Linked DNA regions of Homo sapiens. The protein of the gene in region 4 interacts with the protein of the main gene of each other region in a pairwise test. Each region holds a gene or a part of one and is shown on either strand. Other genes may lie near its edges.

Region 1 (4,385 bases), on a different chromosome or scaffold from region 4:
TCATCTAGCCCCTAAACAATTCCTTCTTCTCCAGCTCCCACTCTGAACCTACCCTCTCCAAGTTTCATTAGCCGAGGAGTTTTCCTAAAGTAATTAGAATCGAAGGGTCTGTCCATGTGTTCCAGGTATCCCGAGTATTTCACTAGGATAGAAGAAAGAATGTAAGGAAAATGGACCAAAAACACCCACGCCACCATAATATCGAGTCTCTCATGATCACACAGAAACAATGTGAACAGATGAGCTTAAGCTGCCCGACACCCCGAGGTACAGGAATAAATCTTCTCTCTGCATTTTGGGTGCCGGCCCTTTGGCTCAGAGGTTCAAGAGCTTTGCGGAAGCATCACACAAAGGGGACATAGGAGTCCCTAGCTTTCGTCTTAAAAAAACTAATTCAGGCCGGAAGCAGCGGCTCATGCTTGTAATCCCAGCTACTGGGGAGGCTGAGGTGGGAGGCTCACTTGGGTCCAGGAGTCTGAGACCAGCCTGGGCAACATAGAGTCCCCCATATCTACAAAAATATTAAAAATTAGCCGGGCATGGTGGATCGCGCCTGTAAATCCCTTATTTGGGAGGCTGAGGCAGGAGAATCACGAGCCCAGGAGGTGGAGGCTGCAGTGAGCTATGATCGCACCACTGCACTCCAGCCTGGGCAACTGAGCAAGACCCCGTTTCAAAAACAAAAAACAAAAATCCACTTCAAACAAAGCATTTCCAACCCCATTAAGTGCTTTTTGAAAATGAGGCCTCTCTCTTCCCAACAGAGTGCGATGACATGGATCCTGAGGACAAACCGCCCCAGGGCGTACCTAGCACCGAAGCATCAGGCGCCACTAGGTCTCCAGCTCCTTCTCGGATGACGTCCTTCAGCACGCCCCGGTCCCCCGAGATGTCCAGCATCCTCTGACTTAACCGCTCGTACAGGGACTGATGGAGAATGAAAGCCAGGCCTCAGAGCCGCAGACCCACCCGGCCACCCCTCAGCGTCTACGCCCCCGAAACGTCTGGGCCCTCACCTGGCCGGGGGCGTCGTCCCCTTCCAGGACTCCCTGGTTTAACGCGCTTCCCCCCATGTCCTAGCTGCCCTCCCTGTGGCGTGAGCCTTCGGCCTGGTGCGCCCCGCTGCCCTCCCTGGCTGTGACTCTGGTGGGGTTCCGAAGGCCCCTTTATGCCCGGCAGACCCCTACCGACGGCGGCATTCCATTCTGGGGCCACGAGGAGGCACTCATCGTTTCGTTCCAACCGCCGCCAACGGCCCTGGCCCTCGCGAGCTCTGGAACTACAGAGGCCACGCGGTGAGGTGCGAGGTATGATCCGTAATGGGAGCGCACGAAACATGATGGGACACGTAACGGGACCACGCAGGGCACGTTGGGTACGTGCAGGGGCGCGAGGTGGCGGCACGTAATGGGAGCGCGCAGAGCATGATGGGGCACGCGCGGTAGCGCGAGGCGGGGCATGTAACCATAGCGTGCGGGTCATGATGAGGCACGGACGTGGGGGGTTAGGTGGGGCACGTAATTGGAGCTCGCGGGGCAGGATGGGGCATCTAACTGGAGCGACAGAGAGCACGATGGGGCACTTACAGGGGCCGGAGGCTGGGTACGTAACGAGAGCGAGCGGGAAATGATGGGGCACCTAACGAGCACGCAGAGCATGATGGGGCACGGGTGCGAGGTGGGGCGCACAGTGGGAGCGCGTGGGGCATGATGAGACACATGGCGAGGCCATCAGGGCACAGGGGAAGCACTTTTGGAACACGTGAGTGACAGGGCTGCCGCCCTTGAAGGAGCCCTCGGAGTGGCTGCGTGGTGGGGCACGTGGGGCAGGTTCAGGAAAAAGGATGCAGCATGTGATTGCAGGGCAACCTGGTGAGGACACGAGAGCCACCTGCCACCAGCAGGGTTCAGGGCTCCCAGCTGTGGGTTACTTCCACCTTCTTTCACTTTCTCTCTTCCATTGTGTTCTAGAGAATTTAGGCCCAGACAAGACACTGATTGATTGATTGATTGATTGATTGACAGAGGCTCGTTCTGAGCCCAGGCTGGAGTTCAGTGATGGATCTCAGCTCACTGCAGCCGCCACTCCCTGGGCTCAAGAGATCCTCTTGCCTCAGCCTCCCGAGTAGCTGGGATTACAGAACTGCACCACCAGGCCCAGCTAATTTATTTTTTAGTTTTTAATTTGCTGGAAAGATGGTTTGTAGCTTTGTTGCTAGGCTGGTCTTGAACTCCTGGCTTCAAGTGATCCTCCAGTCTTGGCCTCCCAAAGTGCTGGGATTATAGGCGTAAGCTACAGCCAACTTTCAATACTGCCCCATTGGGGGTTAAGTTTCCAACACATGAAATTAGGAGGATACATTCAAACCACAGCAGTATATTATGACCATAATATTCATTAACTGTATAACAGGACAGGCGCGGTGGCTCACACCTGTAATCCCAGCACTTTGGGAGGCCAAAGCCGGTGGATCGCTCCAGGTCAGGAGTTTGAGACCAGCCTGCCCCACATGATGAAACCCCATCTCTACTAAAATTACAAAGAATTAGCCGGGCATGGTGGCAGGCGCCTGTAACCCCAGCTACTTGGGAGGCTGAGGCAGGAGAATCACTTGAACCCGGGAGGCGGAGGTTGCAATGAGCCAGATTGCGCCACTGCACTCCAGCCTGGGTAACAAGAGCAAAACTCTGTCTCAGAAAACAAACAAAACCTGTATAACAGAGTGTCATTGAATTTCTAAACGTTGAAAGACTTCACATTAAAAAAAAAACTCACAATTCAATATTATTGAGTGAAAGTAACCAGACACAAAAGAGTACATTCTATATGATGCTGTTTATGTGAAATTCAAAAACAGTCCACATGACAACATGGTAATAAGGACAGTGGCTGTCCTTGTTAGGAGTTATGACTGGGAGGAGGCAGGAGGGAGCTTTCTGGAATCACTCTACATCTTGTTCTTGAGAGTGGGTGTATATACATCAAGTGTTTATCAAGCTGTGTGGTTAAGATTTGCACACTTGTATATGTTATACCTTGATTTAAAAAATCTAAGTAAATAAGGATACCTTTGAATATCTTAAAAAAAAAAAAAAAAGAGGCCAGGCTTGGTGGCTCACACCTATAATCCCAGCACTTTGGGAGGCTGAGGTAGGAGGATTGCTTGAGGCCGGGAGTTCAAAACCAGCCCAGGCAACAAAGCGAGACCCCTGTCTCTACTAAAATAAATAAAACAATAAAATGAAAAAAAATAGAGAGATTGAATCATCATCTGCCAGTTTGTATTAGAAAAAAAGAGAGAGAGAGGGAAGGCTGGGTGCAGTAAGGCTCACGCCTGTAATCCCAGCACTTTGGGAGGCCAAGGTGGGAGGATTGCTTGAGCCCAGAAGTTGAAGACCAGCCTGGGCAACAAAGCAAGACCCGGTATCTAAAAAAATTTTTTAAATATTAGCTTGGCATGGTGGCATGCACCTGTAGTCCCAGCTACTCAGGCAGCTGAGGTAGGAGGATGGCTTGAGCCTAGGAGTTGGAGGCTACAGTGAGCTATGACCACGCCACTGCACTCCAGCCTGGGCAACAGAGCAACAAGCTGTCTTTCCCCACCCCCCAGCCCCCCCGCCCAAAAAAAGGAGAGTAAGAGCAAGAGTTTGAGATTCAGAAAGAACTGTTTCCCAGCACCTATCTGCTCCTGTTGGGGTCATGAGGTGTGGACGGTGTACCCAGTCCCTCTGTTTCTGCCCCTCCTCCACAGTGGCCAAGGCCAGCACCTGAATGTTATCAGAGCAGGCCCAACAAAGGCTGCCTCCCCAGTCCCGTGATGTAACCCAGTTTCCACCTGATTCTGGTGACCTTGGGGACACAGGGGTGTTGCTGGGAAAGGGGAGGAGAGAAGGGGCAGAGACCAGGCAGTGGTGCAGGCGTCCAGCTGCATTTCCCACTTCTGACTCTGTGCCTGCTGTTCCCTGCTGGGAAGAAGGAAAGCCAGTGATGCTGGCTTGAGGCTGTAGTGGGAGGCCCAGCGGATTGTGAGAAGCCAGGTATTCCAATGTCGGGCTCCCCCGGGGGCTGCTGGTGCTGCTTCTGTCTCATTGACAAGCTTTCATAGGGGAGCAGGTGGGAGATCAGGGTAGAGGCCTTGTAGGTTCCAGGCTCTCTAGAATTACCTGGGAGTGTCACCTATAAGTGTAGAGTTCTGGGTCTCACTGGAGACCCCCTGAAGAAGATCCTTTGAAGGTGGGCCTCTAGAATCTCTATTACACCTATGCTTTCAACAGTTTCCCGAAAGTTTGGGAACTGATCTAGAAGGTGGGGAGCTTGCCTAGGTTTTGCTGTTCAGTTCTAGGTCCGGATGCATGCTGGGGCTGGACCTTGCATTATTAGTGTCA
Region 2 (3,668 bases), on a different chromosome or scaffold from region 4:
TGAGAAATAAACCATCTTTAGGTCATTGACAAACTTAGTGCAAAAGGACACAGTCCCCAATATGTAGAAAAACCAAACAGAAAAAGAATGAGATTAAATTATAATCGACAGTCTAAATATATAAAATAATATACACATGAAACAAGAACAGAATGCTAGGGAGGGGAAGAACAAATAGCCCTTCAATTTTCTAAAATTTATTTTTTGTAGAGATGGGATCTTGCTATGGTGCCCAGACTGATCTTTAACTCCTGGCTTCAAGCAATCCTCCCACCTTGGACTCCTGAAGTGCTGGGATTATAGGTGTGAGTCACTGTGCCTGGCCCCCCAGTTTTAAATGAAAAATTCATCAGAAGAGGTGGCAAAAAGTCAAGGAAAGCTTCCATACATGACACAAACAGGAGAAAAGATGGAAACTAGGTGGGGAGGGGGGAGGGACAGCAGCCAGAAGCTCAGTGCAGGAGGTCTGATAATAGGAGTTCCAGACAAAGAGGGCAGAGGGAACAAGAGTAAATTATCAAAGAAATAACTCAAGAAAGTTTCCCAGAGTGGAGGAAAAGTTTCCTGAATGAAAAGATACACACACGCAGAGGCACATCACCGTAAAATTTAGGAATGCCGGGGAAAAACGATCTTCGTCTCTACAGAAGAAAAAACAGGTCACGTAGAAAGGAATAAAGAACCTAAGTAGTAGTAAGATTTTTTTGTTGTTGTTGTTAGCTTTGAGCTCAGAACTAGCAAGACCTTTTTTTTTGAGATGGAGTTTCACTCTTATTCCCCTGGCTGCAGTGCAATTATGCCATCTTGGCTCACTGCAACCTCCACCTCCCGGGTTCAAGCAATTATCCTGCCTCAGCCTCCCAAGTAGCTGGGACTATGGGCACCCACCAACACGCCCAGCTAATTTTTGTATTTTTAGTAGAGACGGGGTTTCACCATGTTCGCCAGGCTGGTCTTGAACTCCTGACCTCAGGTGATCCACCCGCCTCGGCCTCCCAAAGTGCTGGGATTACAGGCATGAGCCACCGTGCCCAGCCAAAAGACTTTTTAATAACAACTCTAGACAAATATGTATTTAAAAACCAAGAATATTTTAGACATACATCAACATACTCTGTTAAAACAAAGGAGTAAGTTGAGAAAAAAACAGGAAATCCACAAACTAGCATTATAGGGCAGCCCCAGGACAAGAGCTGTGTGGCGGGCCCCAGGGAGATTCTCCCCTGGCCACGCATTGCGGGGTCACCTGGGTGGGAAGGAGGGAGGGGAGAAGAGTCTGGTGCTTGTGTTATGTTAAGAGCTTTCTGGAAGACCCTCCAGAGGTTTCCCTTTATGTCTCCTTGGCTAGACCCTTGTTACAGGGACACCCTAAGCTCATGGGAAGCTGGGAAGATGTAGTTTTTTAATTAGTACACTGATGCTTTGAGTGAAATGGGAGGTTCTGTTAGGAGAAGGGGGAATAGATATTGGGTGACAGGGTCGGCAACATTTGGCCTATATGAGTATGTTCCAGAGACAGCACACGCATGTGTGGTGTTTTGTTTTTTTTTTTTTTGGAGACAGAATCTTGCCCTGTTGCCCAGGCTGGAGTGCAGTGGTGCGATCTTGGCTCATTGCAACCTCCGCCTCCTGGGTTCAAGTGATTCTCCTGCTTCAGCCTCCCAAGTAGCTGGGATTACAGGCACCCACCACCATGCCAGCAAATTTTTGTATTTTTAGTAGAGACGGGGTTTCGCCACGTTGCCCAGGCTGGTCTCAAACTCCTGACCTCAAGCTATCCACTCGCCTCAGCCTCCCAAAGTGCTGGGATTACAGGCATGAGCCACTGCGTCCAGCCATGTTTGTTGAATGAATAAAATTAAAAAGGAAACAGAAAACAGCTCAGCATAACCTACACAAGAAGCAAAATCACAACAGGAGGCTTGATGAGGCTGCAATTGCCTCAGGCTAGAATCGCCAAATGAGCCTCCACTGTCAGAGACATGAAATGATGATGGCAAAGGGGTGGAGAAATCGGTTGGTGGAGGACCTAATAAGCACTGGGATGAGAATTTTTAAAAGTTAATAAACTGAATTGTTTTAGAGCAGTGAGATGGAAATTCTAAACACTTCTAGTTCAAGTACATATACAGAGGCAAATGTTTTTCACAACCTGAACACACCCATGTACCCAAGAACCACGTCAAAACACAGAACATTCCCAGGTGCCTCCCAATCCCGTGAGTCCTCTCTCCAGCCCTTATCCCCTCGAGAGTCCCCTCTTCAGCCCTTATCCCCCCGTTAGTCCCCTCTCCAGTACTTATCCCTTTGGCATGAGGATTTTTTTTTTTTTTGAGATGGGAGTTTTTTTGCCTTTCTTGCCCAGGCTGGAATGCAACGGCACAATCTCGGCTCACTGCAACCTCAACCTCCACCTCCTGGGTTCAAGTGATTCTCTTGCCTCAGCCTCCCAAGTAGCTGGGATTACAGGCACCCACCACCACGCCCGGCTAATTTTGTATTTTTAGTAGAGACGGGGTTTCACCATGTTGGCCAGGCTGGTCTCAAACTCCTGACCTCAGGTGATCCACCTGCCTTGGCCTGGCATGAGGATTTTTTTAAATGAGATTTTTCTTAATGGCTGCTCATAGAAAGTAGGGAGAAAGACAAAAATCTGTGTTTTTTGCCGGGCGCGGTAGCTCACACCTGTAATCCCAGCACTTTGGGAGGCCGAGGTGGGCAGATCACGAGGTCAGGACATTGAGACCATCCTGGCTAACACGGTGAAACTCTGTCTCTACTAAAAATACAAAAAAATTAGCCAGGTGAAGTGGCGGGTGCCTGTAGTCCCAGCTACTTGGAAGGCTGAGGCAGGAGAATGGCGTGAACCCAGGAGGCGGAGCTTGCAGTGAGCTGAGATTGCGCCACTGCACTCCAGCCTGGGCGACAGAGCGACACTCTTGTCTCAAAAACAAAACAAAACAAAAATCACAACAAAACAAAATCTGTGTTTTTTAAACAAGGAAGTTTTCAGGATCTAAACTTACACTTAACTTTCAAAGCATTCTCACCCTTTTATATCTCACTTTGGCATCATAGAAACGATTCTGGCGGAAAAGGTAGTTGCCAAACTCCCGTTCCGTAGCTGCCACTTTCAGGACCTTCTGAAGTGGAAATTGGTCTTGCTGCTCCTGAGGACCAGAGACAGGAATATTCAGCAAGGAAACCAAAAGCAGTAATGCCACAATGGAAGTGTTAGTACACGTGAGCCCAGGAGTTCGAGACCAGCCTGGGCAACATAGTGAGAACATGTCTCCATTTAAAAAAATAGTAATTGAAAGAAAGGAAGTGTTACTACAGCTGTGAGCTCTTCTTTTTCAGATCATGCACTTCTGTTTACAGCCTTCTGTGTTGGAGTCACCTCTGAATCTGACAGAAGCCACACCAGTGTTATAACCTGTCCCATTTTACACCCTAGAGCCAGAAGGAAGTCTACGTCTTCAGTCTTCCCCTGATGTTCTCTGAGGAAGCAGTGTCCCATGGAATCAAAAACTGACGGAACTTGCCAAGCACAGAAGTCAGTGCTCAAAACCACTATTTGGCCACCAAGCACTGAACAGGTCTTGGTTTGCTCAGGGCCCTGGCAGTCTTTATGGTCATGATGCTCTGCCCTGGCCATCTTCAGAGTC
Region 3 (3,668 bases), on a different chromosome or scaffold from region 4:
ATAGGACTGCAAACTAGAAAGAAGGGCATCAGGCCAGGCGCAGTGGCTCATAACTGTAATCCAGTGCTTTGGGAGGCCGAGGCGGGCAGATCACCTGAGGTCAGGAGTTCAAGACTAGTCTGGCCAACGTGGTGAAACCTGGTCTCTAACTAAAAATACAAAAATTAGCTGGCGTGGTGGCACACACCTGTAATCCCAGCTACTCGGGAGACTGAGGCAAGAGAATCGCTTGAACCCAGGGGGCAGAGGTTGCAGGGTTGCAGTGAGCTGAGATCATGCCACTGCACTCAAGCCTGGGCAACAGAGTGAGACTCGGAAGAAAGAGAGAAAGAGAGACACAGAGAGAGAGAGAGAGAGAAAAGGGAAAGGAAGGGAAGGGGAAGGGAAGGGAAGGGGAAGGGAAGGGAAGGGGAAGGGAAGGGGAGGGGAGGGGAGGGAAGGGAAGGGAGAAGGAAGGAAGAGAGAGAGAGAAAGAAAGAAGGGCATGCAGAGACAGTAGGGTGCTCCCTCAAGACCGAATAATCAGCCAGGGAGATAATGACAGACAAAATCAGGGGCCGAGATAATGACAGATAAAATCAGGGGCCCTGCACTCCCAACAGCTTATAAAGTAAAATGGAAATAAAACCATGTGTCTGAAGGAAGCATAGGGTACCATGACAACATTTCAAAGGAAGATTGATCATGTCGAGGTAGTCAGATTAGGCAGTGACTCTGAGCCGGGGCTGTGCCCAATAATATAAAGCCTTTTAAGCCGTAGTATGGTTTTGCTTAGGTTTTTGGATGATAATGAGTCTGGGTGGGGTTTTTAGGTTTTTGCTCTTTATCCTAAAAACAAAGAGAAGCGTCTGAAGACTTACGCAGGTGAATGGCATCATCAGATTGAACTGCCACAAACTACTCAGGCTACAGTGTGTCTGAGGGACTGGAGAGTGGCAGTGAGGAGACCGCCAGGAGGAGGCAGAACACAGCAGTGGAGACAGACGCAGGCTGATGATTCAGGATGCATCCATGAAGTAACACTCACAAGACTTACTAGCGGACAGGTTTCATGCGGAGTAGTGAGGAAGAGAGACAGGTAACAAGGAAGACTCCTGGGTCTCTAGTCTGGGTGTTGGTGCTCTGGGGAGACTGAGGCAGGCCAGTGTAAGACAGGGGCAGGGAACAGATAGCATGAGGCAGATATGACAACAGGAAGTAAAAATCAGCTTGCACCGAGAAAGCAAAAGTCTGTCCTGACTTCTGTCAGGCTGGAATAACAAACACAGATAAAGTCAGGTGCCAAGTTAACAGAAAATATCTCTCAAAGACAATGCAACTGTAAAGTGTCATAATGACCTCTTCTTTGAGTGACTGCTAACTTCTTATTCACTGAGAAGCCTTATTCTGTAAAATCCCAGACTCGCACAAATTTTGTTCTTTGAAATTATACAAGTAAGAAGATCCCACTCTTGCCTGCAGGATCTAAGTCACTGTGACACAGAAAAGAACCCTATTTCCAGCTACTGCAGAGCTTCAAGTAAGGGATTTCTAGAACAATGTTCCACGTCTATTTGAACGTTGTAGTTTTCAAGGAAACGGGACCTGGGTCCGCTTCGCAGTCAGACTTAATATTGGTCCCTTTAGACACAGTTCTATTTTGCTTCATTTATGCTTCACCTAATACCACTCTGTCTCCAAGTCCTACAACAACTCTATCCTCTTTTTTGTTGACATGCCCCACAGTTTCTCGGTGTTCTGGTATGGTCTTCCTCACTGCAAAGAGCCATAAACCTCACTCTGTCAGACTGTGGGTCTGTTCCTGGCGACCTTAGACTGATTAGGCTAGGGCAGACATTTAGAATTTGAAATAATCATGAAACAAGCAGGAAGAAATGCCAAGTCGGAGTCAGGCACAAGGCCGTGAGCTTGGAGAGTTCTGGGCTAGAGAGTAAATCCAGCAGCCACTGGCATCAAGACGGTAACTGAAGCTGTGAGTGTGCATGAGACTGCCTAGGGAGAAGCCATGGGGTGAGGCAATGAGCGGGGCCTAGGCCTGAGTCTCAAGCCCTATTGGAAGGCTGCAAAGCAGAGAAGGATAAATTTCAGCAAAGGGGAATAAGCAGGAATTGCCAGAGAGACTATGGGGAAAAAGGTGACTCTATAGCCTGGGAAAGGCCGGGACTATGAGATAAGATCTCCCAAAGGCAGACTGTGATCAAGTGACCACAGATTTGTTTGTGGCCCTCACTCGGTTTGATTTTGGCAGCGGGACTGATCACTAAAGACACTCATGTTAACTAACTCATGAGACCCTGATGTATTTTTTAGAATGCCAGTTTATTAATTTACAGTGAGAATATAACCAACCAGCAGGCTGCCATACGCTGCTACTGGTGTATGCCTATTTACCTTCCTTTCCTGAAGATAAATGCACAAGGAATGACTAATCTCAGAAAGTTGCTGGATGAGCATGAAATCAAAACTAGAGAAATTAGAAGTCAATGACCTGGCATTCTGGCAACCAATGACACGCCATGTATCTGGCAGAGTCCCAGTGGGAAAGAGAAATCAACCCAGATGTTGAGACTTTTCTGAAGGGACCACTTACAGAGGGGAGAGCAGAGATAACAGAACCACCAAGGGACAGCGAGGTACCCAGGGACTAGCAACAGCCCTACAGCCACAGGAGCAGGGGCAGTCCAGCAAGAGCTAGGACTACGGAAGAGGCCTCTAGACAGGAGTCTCTGTTGTGGAGGGATGCAGCTACTGCCACAAAACAGCAGCAAAGCAGGGAGGGAGCAGGAAGAAACACCCCAACCTCTCTCTCCACCCAGCAATGCCTTCCATTGGTGAGCCCCACTGGCAGCCAGCAAGGGAACCAGGAGAGCCCCATCTGTAGGGATCTACCTCCCAGAGCACACCACAGGGCAGAGAAGACTGGATCCAAGGACTTCGGAGAGAATATAAACAGGACAAGGTACGGTGGATGAGAACTGTCCCTTCTAACTGGATGTGGCTGGCCCACTGACCAGATACGTTTGCACATGCCAGAAACTCATATTCTCGGGGTGAGCTATCTTCTTGTCTGGACAAGTGCTACAGCTACCTGGGCCCCCTGGATGCACCTTTTCTAGAGGGCACACAGGGAGGGATAACAACCAAATGTCATGCAGTAAATTGGCCTTTACCGTCAAAGGCTGATTTAATCATGATTTGGCCTCAATCAAGCAAGTGCTGAGACAATCTCAGAGTATGTCCAGGAACTTCAATAGGCTCCTAAACTGGTATTCAACATAACAGCTCAGCTCAAATCTCAAAAGTCTGAATGGACACCAGAAAGCCTAAACTTCAATCAGTTCTAGATACTGGCTCACCCATCCACCTAAAGATAAGTGAACACACTTCCAGCTATCTCTACTGACAAGTAAACTCCATGCAAGGTTTCCATTTGGCAAGATCCTTAACTTACACAGTAAGTACTTAATTTTCAGAATAGAGCTTTTCAGTTATCAAAAGTATAAAATTCTTCTGCCAATGAAGAGAGAGAGAAAGAGAAGCTGTTAATAGATGCTCAGAAAACTGGCAACCAACTTATACCAACTTACATATGTCCAAGTCACTACACTGAGGAAACCTCCCTTTCTTAGGTCATCAGACTCTCCCAAATATCATCACAAGGACTGTAA
Region 4 (4,240 bases):
GTGCTTCCGCCGCGGGTCCCACCCCTCCTGCTGTGTGGGAGGCCCTGGGATTTGCCTCCGTGGCCGCAAAGCCCCAGCGGTGACAGGAAGGAGTGACCCAGACCCCAAGGGGAGGAGCCCTCGCCTCGATACCTCGGGGACCTGGAATGGCCCCGGGGAGTAGGTTCCCCAGGGTTGGGGGACCGTGGCTGGCTGAAGGCATCATGGCAGGCTGGTAGGTGTCACCCCGCGGCAGGAGCCTCCGGGTACTGGGACTCTCGGGCCCGGGGCGCATGGCGCTGGCCACCACCTCTGCGGCCTTCTGGATGGTGGAGAGGAAGGCTTCGCCTGCCGAGCCTGTACCCGAGGAGAGGGAGATGGGACGGCCGCCCAGTGCGGCCCCCACCCGCGTTCTCTGGGAGCAGGGTGCCCGCATCGGCTCCCTGCTCAAGCTTGGAGAGGTCGGGGTACATGCTGCAGGTAGGGAGGCCTCCTGGTGGGCCCCAGGCCCTCTGGAAGCTCCCAGTGGACTCCGCTTTGGCATTCCCACTCCCAGTGGGCCTGGACACCAAAGCTCACTGCAGAGTTATGCCTCCGTCCCTCTGTCCTCTGGGGGTGAAGGTGTCCTAAGGGGCTTGGGCTTGGCCTTGGCTCAGGGAGGGTGTGTCCAGGGCTCGGGGAGGGGCCGGCCTTTCCTGTGTGAGTTCCCTGTAGAAGCTGCCCCGACACCAAAGTGTCGGCAGGAGCCCCAGGCTGTGCGCAGGACGGCGTGACACAGCCTAACGGTGAGCAGCTACACACCGCCCAGGGCCCGGCAGCAGGGCACAGCTGGGCTGGGGGCTGGGTCCCAGCCGCAGGCAGTGGTGCCACCTGTGGCTCTCCTGGCGCTGGTGAGCAGTTGTCCACTGGTACTGCCCCACCTCATAACAGCTCCACACGGGACTGCCTGAGTCACCTGCACCACAGCCAGGGGCACAGCCCTCGGCCCCTCTCAGAGTGGGACTCACCCCTGCCACGGGGCCCAGCCCTGACTTCTTGCTCGGCCTGGTTTCTCTCATCTGTCCATAAAGCAGCCCTGGCCACACCTGCCCCACCCCCACGTCAGCAGCCAGAGAGAGACAGTGGGGACAGCCCCAGGAAGGGTTGAGGCCATGTAGGGGAGGGGACGGGGGACAGCAGCTACTAGATGGGGCGGCATGGTCCGGCCCCCACCACCTCCTCATCCCCACACCCTGAGATGCCAGAGCCCATGCAGGCCCTCCCCACTCACCCGTGCGGCCGTGTTCCTTGCTGTAGCCGAAACCCTGGAGGGTGCTGTGCGGCCTGGCCTGGGAGCCCATGCCTGCAGAGGGTCCTCCGTTAGCAGCAAGCCGGCCCCCACCCTCGGCCCTGCCCACGGATGGCACAGACACCCAGGACACTCAAGGAGGCAGAAACCAGGTGCCAGAGCTGGACACGGTCCCCTCAGTCACCTACCTGTGGCAGGCGGGGTCCCCAGAGGCTGGGAGGGAGCCAGCGGCAACACGGTGTCCGAGAACAGGGTGCTCCCCAAGTCCTACAGGGGGAGGCGAAGGCCCTCAGTGTCCTCACACCAGGGCCTGCTGTACTCACCCTGCCACCCATATCAGCTCCGTTCTGTCCCCCGGACACTTCTCCTGAGCCACTCAGCTGGACACAGGCTCTGTGTCCACCAGCAAGGAGCAGAGGCAGGGGTCCCGGATGGGAGAACTGCAAACCCCCCAGCTGACATCCTGGCCCCAATCCCACCCCTCTACAGGAGGAGGGGCACCCCGCAGAGCGACACTGCTCCTGGGCTCACCTGCGCGGCCGCGCGAACCTTCTGGTACAAGCTGTTCCCGTGCAGAGGATCTGGGGGCCCTGCAAAAGCTGCAGAACAGAAAAGGCAAGTCGGGGGCAGGGCTGAGCCTGGCACCGCTGCTCCCTGTGGAGCACGGTGCCCTGGGCCCACTCCAGGGTGGCAAGTTCCTGCCACCAAGGCCCTTCTGTCACAGCCAATGGGATGCCCTCCTCCAGGACCCTGCAGAGGCCACACCTGAGCAGACCCTCAGCTCCCCCTCACCCATGCCCCACAGAGGCGAGACTCTCTCCACAGCAACCACCTCGTCTCCCCCAGGGTCGGCAACCCCTGGTGCCTGAGCGGGTGTGGCCTCCCCGAAGCCCACTCTCCCTGCCCCAGGTGCACCAGGGACCCCTCAGAGGCTTCCGGGGCCTGGAGGGAGAAACCAGCGTTCTTATCACAGCCTGAAAGCTCCACCTAGCCCCACCCAACCCCAGTCTCAGCCGCCTCGAGCTCCCCTGCTCTGAGAGTTCCTGTCATGATGAACTGGGGCTTCTTTCCTTAAATCTTCCGGCCCCAGGGCCCCCCAAGCCTACACCTGGGGCCGCGGCATCCTTTCAGGGCTCAGGCTGAGAGCTGTGCCTCTGAGAACCCCTCGAGAGCCTCTGTCACAGGCGAATCCACTCACGCCCCTCGGCCGTCTACCTCCACCCTGGCAGGCTGGTCCCGTGATTCGGAGACGATGCTCCTGGCTGTCCCTGGGCCCAGGGCTGGCGGCCACAAGCTGAGTCAATGGCTGGATGAACTGACACCCTGAGGCTGCCATCTTCCCTGCAGGAGCCCAGGGCACCCACCTGCCACCCCACGCTGCCCCTGCTCTGTGACAGAGCAGGAGCATCACCATCTTGGACAAGCCCCTCATTCTAAAGTTCACCTTAACCAAAAACTGCCTAAATCCATAGGGCATCAGCCTAATGGCTAAGGTCAGCACGACCATGAACCACAAATAACATCTCCAACCAGAAACATTCCAAACTCCTCCCCAACCAGAGACATGCTAGCCCCAAGATAACCCTTCTCCAGCCGGGAAGATGCCAGCTTCGAGAAAACCCACCTCCAGGCTGAAAAGATGCCTGCCCCAAGATAACCTTCCCTCCTTCCAACCCTGCCATAAACTTCTCCACACACATAAACATTCCGAGCTTCTGATAAGCCCTCTCATCCTAAAACCAACATTCAGTCTGTAAGATAAAGTGCTCCTGACCGCAATCGGCTGGGGGTGCCTCTCAGGTTTTAACTAAAGAAAATCTGTCTGTAACTGCCAGCTGCGTTTTCTTTCCTCTTTCTGACGCTCTGCGCGCGTGGGGCAGGCCATCCTCACTGCACACCCACCACCTGGAGCAGGGCGCCCCGTCTCTCACGTGTGGCATCTGGCACCCACTTTCCTCACAGGGCCTGTCCTGACACCTCCCACAGCCTGTGTGTCACCCAGGGCCAGTGTCCAGGCACGGCAGGCAACAGCCATCATCCATAGCTGCCTCTGCACAGGAGAGACTCTGGTGCCGACAAGAACCCAGGGTCTGAAGAAGAGCCTTTCCCATCCTCAGGTCCTGCTGTGCCCCATCCCCCTACCTGCTGCAGCCCCCACCCCAGGGCGTGTCCCCGAGACCACTGAGGCCACGACGTACATGCACCAACCACAGCCACGGGAGTGGCCTGGAGCCCGGGGCCCTCTGGCCCGCTGAATGGTGAGGATAAATGGCTGGTGCTGCCTTGGCCCCAAAGCTGTGAGGAGCTCTGTGAGGATGGCGAGAGCACCCCCGCACTGCCGTCCCCTCAGGGGCATCTACTGCCTAAGTCATGTGTCACAACTGTCTATGGCGGCCCAGGGCACTGGCCCCTGCGGAACACCTAGAGCTGCATGCCCACTTGCCATAAAGTGGGACAACACTGGTTTCGACACCGGTTTTGGGGTGAGCCCAGTGGATGGTACACCCTGAGGTCTCCACAAGCAAGCAGTGGCACGAGACAGACTCAGTCTCCCTCCCCAGAATTCCCCACTCAGGGGCTGGGGTGGGGTCCAGACATGGTGCGCCCAGTGACCACCTGGAGCCAGGCCTCCCTCCACCCCATGGAAGATCTCAGGCCAAGCCCCCACAAGTCCTCATTAGGCAGAGGCACATGGGACTGCCCCCAAGCCTGCGGGGACAGCTCCCCCAGACCCATCTTCTGCCTGGACAGACCGACTGGCCGGGGCCCCGCCTCTCCTGCCTCCCAGCTCCGCCCTCCCATGGCCTCACTCTGTCTTGGGCTCCGAGGAGCAGCCCCAGAAGGGGAACCCACAGCCTGGGAAGGATGTGTGAACAGGCACTGAGTCTGCTATGTGTGGGCACTGGGATGGAGGGGGAAGACCCGTGGGGCACACAGAGAAACAAACTGGCACCCGGGGCAGCAAGCGCAGGG

Evidence for each region.
Region 1: the proteins of TEPSIN (region 4) and TRIM50 interact in binary tests that used the Homo sapiens proteins (3 or more experiments, as listed by UniProt).
Region 2: the proteins of TEPSIN (region 4) and FKBP6 interact in binary tests that used the Homo sapiens proteins (3 or more experiments, as listed by UniProt).
Region 3: the proteins of TEPSIN (region 4) and HSF2BP interact in binary tests that used the Homo sapiens proteins (3 or more experiments, as listed by UniProt).

What each region holds. Positions count from the first base shown.
Region 1 is NC_000007.14:73,325,117-73,329,501, reverse strand, and holds the start of TRIM50 (E3 ubiquitin-protein ligase TRIM50), read left to right. Parts: upstream 1-1,419; 5' UTR 1,420-1,602; intron 1,603-3,926; exon of another isoform or gene 3,927-4,037; intron 4,038-4,385. Other genes in the region: inactive peptidyl-prolyl cis-trans isomerase FKBP6, read right to left, coding at 53-142, 810-927, 1,017-1,073. UniProt on the Homo sapiens protein: E3 ubiquitin-protein ligase that ubiquitinates Beclin-1/BECN1 in a 'Lys-63'-dependent manner enhancing its binding to ULK1. In turn, promotes starvation-induced autophagy activation.
Region 2 is NC_000007.14:73,331,159-73,334,826, reverse strand, and holds part of FKBP6 (inactive peptidyl-prolyl cis-trans isomerase FKBP6), read right to left. Parts: intron 3,171-3,668; coding exon 3,051-3,170; intron 1-3,050. UniProt on the Homo sapiens protein: Has an essential role in spermatogenesis. It is required to repress transposable elements and prevent their mobilization, which is essential for the germline integrity.
Region 3 is NC_000021.9:43,652,823-43,656,490, forward strand, and holds part of HSF2BP (heat shock factor 2-binding protein), read right to left. Parts: intron 1-3,668. UniProt on the Homo sapiens protein: Meiotic recombination factor component of recombination bridges involved in meiotic double-strand break repair.
Region 4 is NC_000017.11:81,232,183-81,236,422, forward strand, and holds part of TEPSIN (AP-4 complex accessory subunit tepsin), read right to left. Parts: intron 3,102-4,240; exon of another isoform or gene 1,867-3,101; coding exon 1,799-1,866; exon of another isoform or gene 1,757-1,798; intron 1,535-1,756; coding exon 1,456-1,534; intron 1,420-1,455; exon of another isoform or gene 1,322-1,419; coding exon 1,250-1,321; intron 337-1,249; coding exon 133-336; intron 28-132; exon of another isoform or gene 1-27. UniProt on the Homo sapiens protein: Associates with the adapter-like complex 4 (AP-4) and may therefore play a role in vesicular trafficking of proteins at the trans-Golgi network.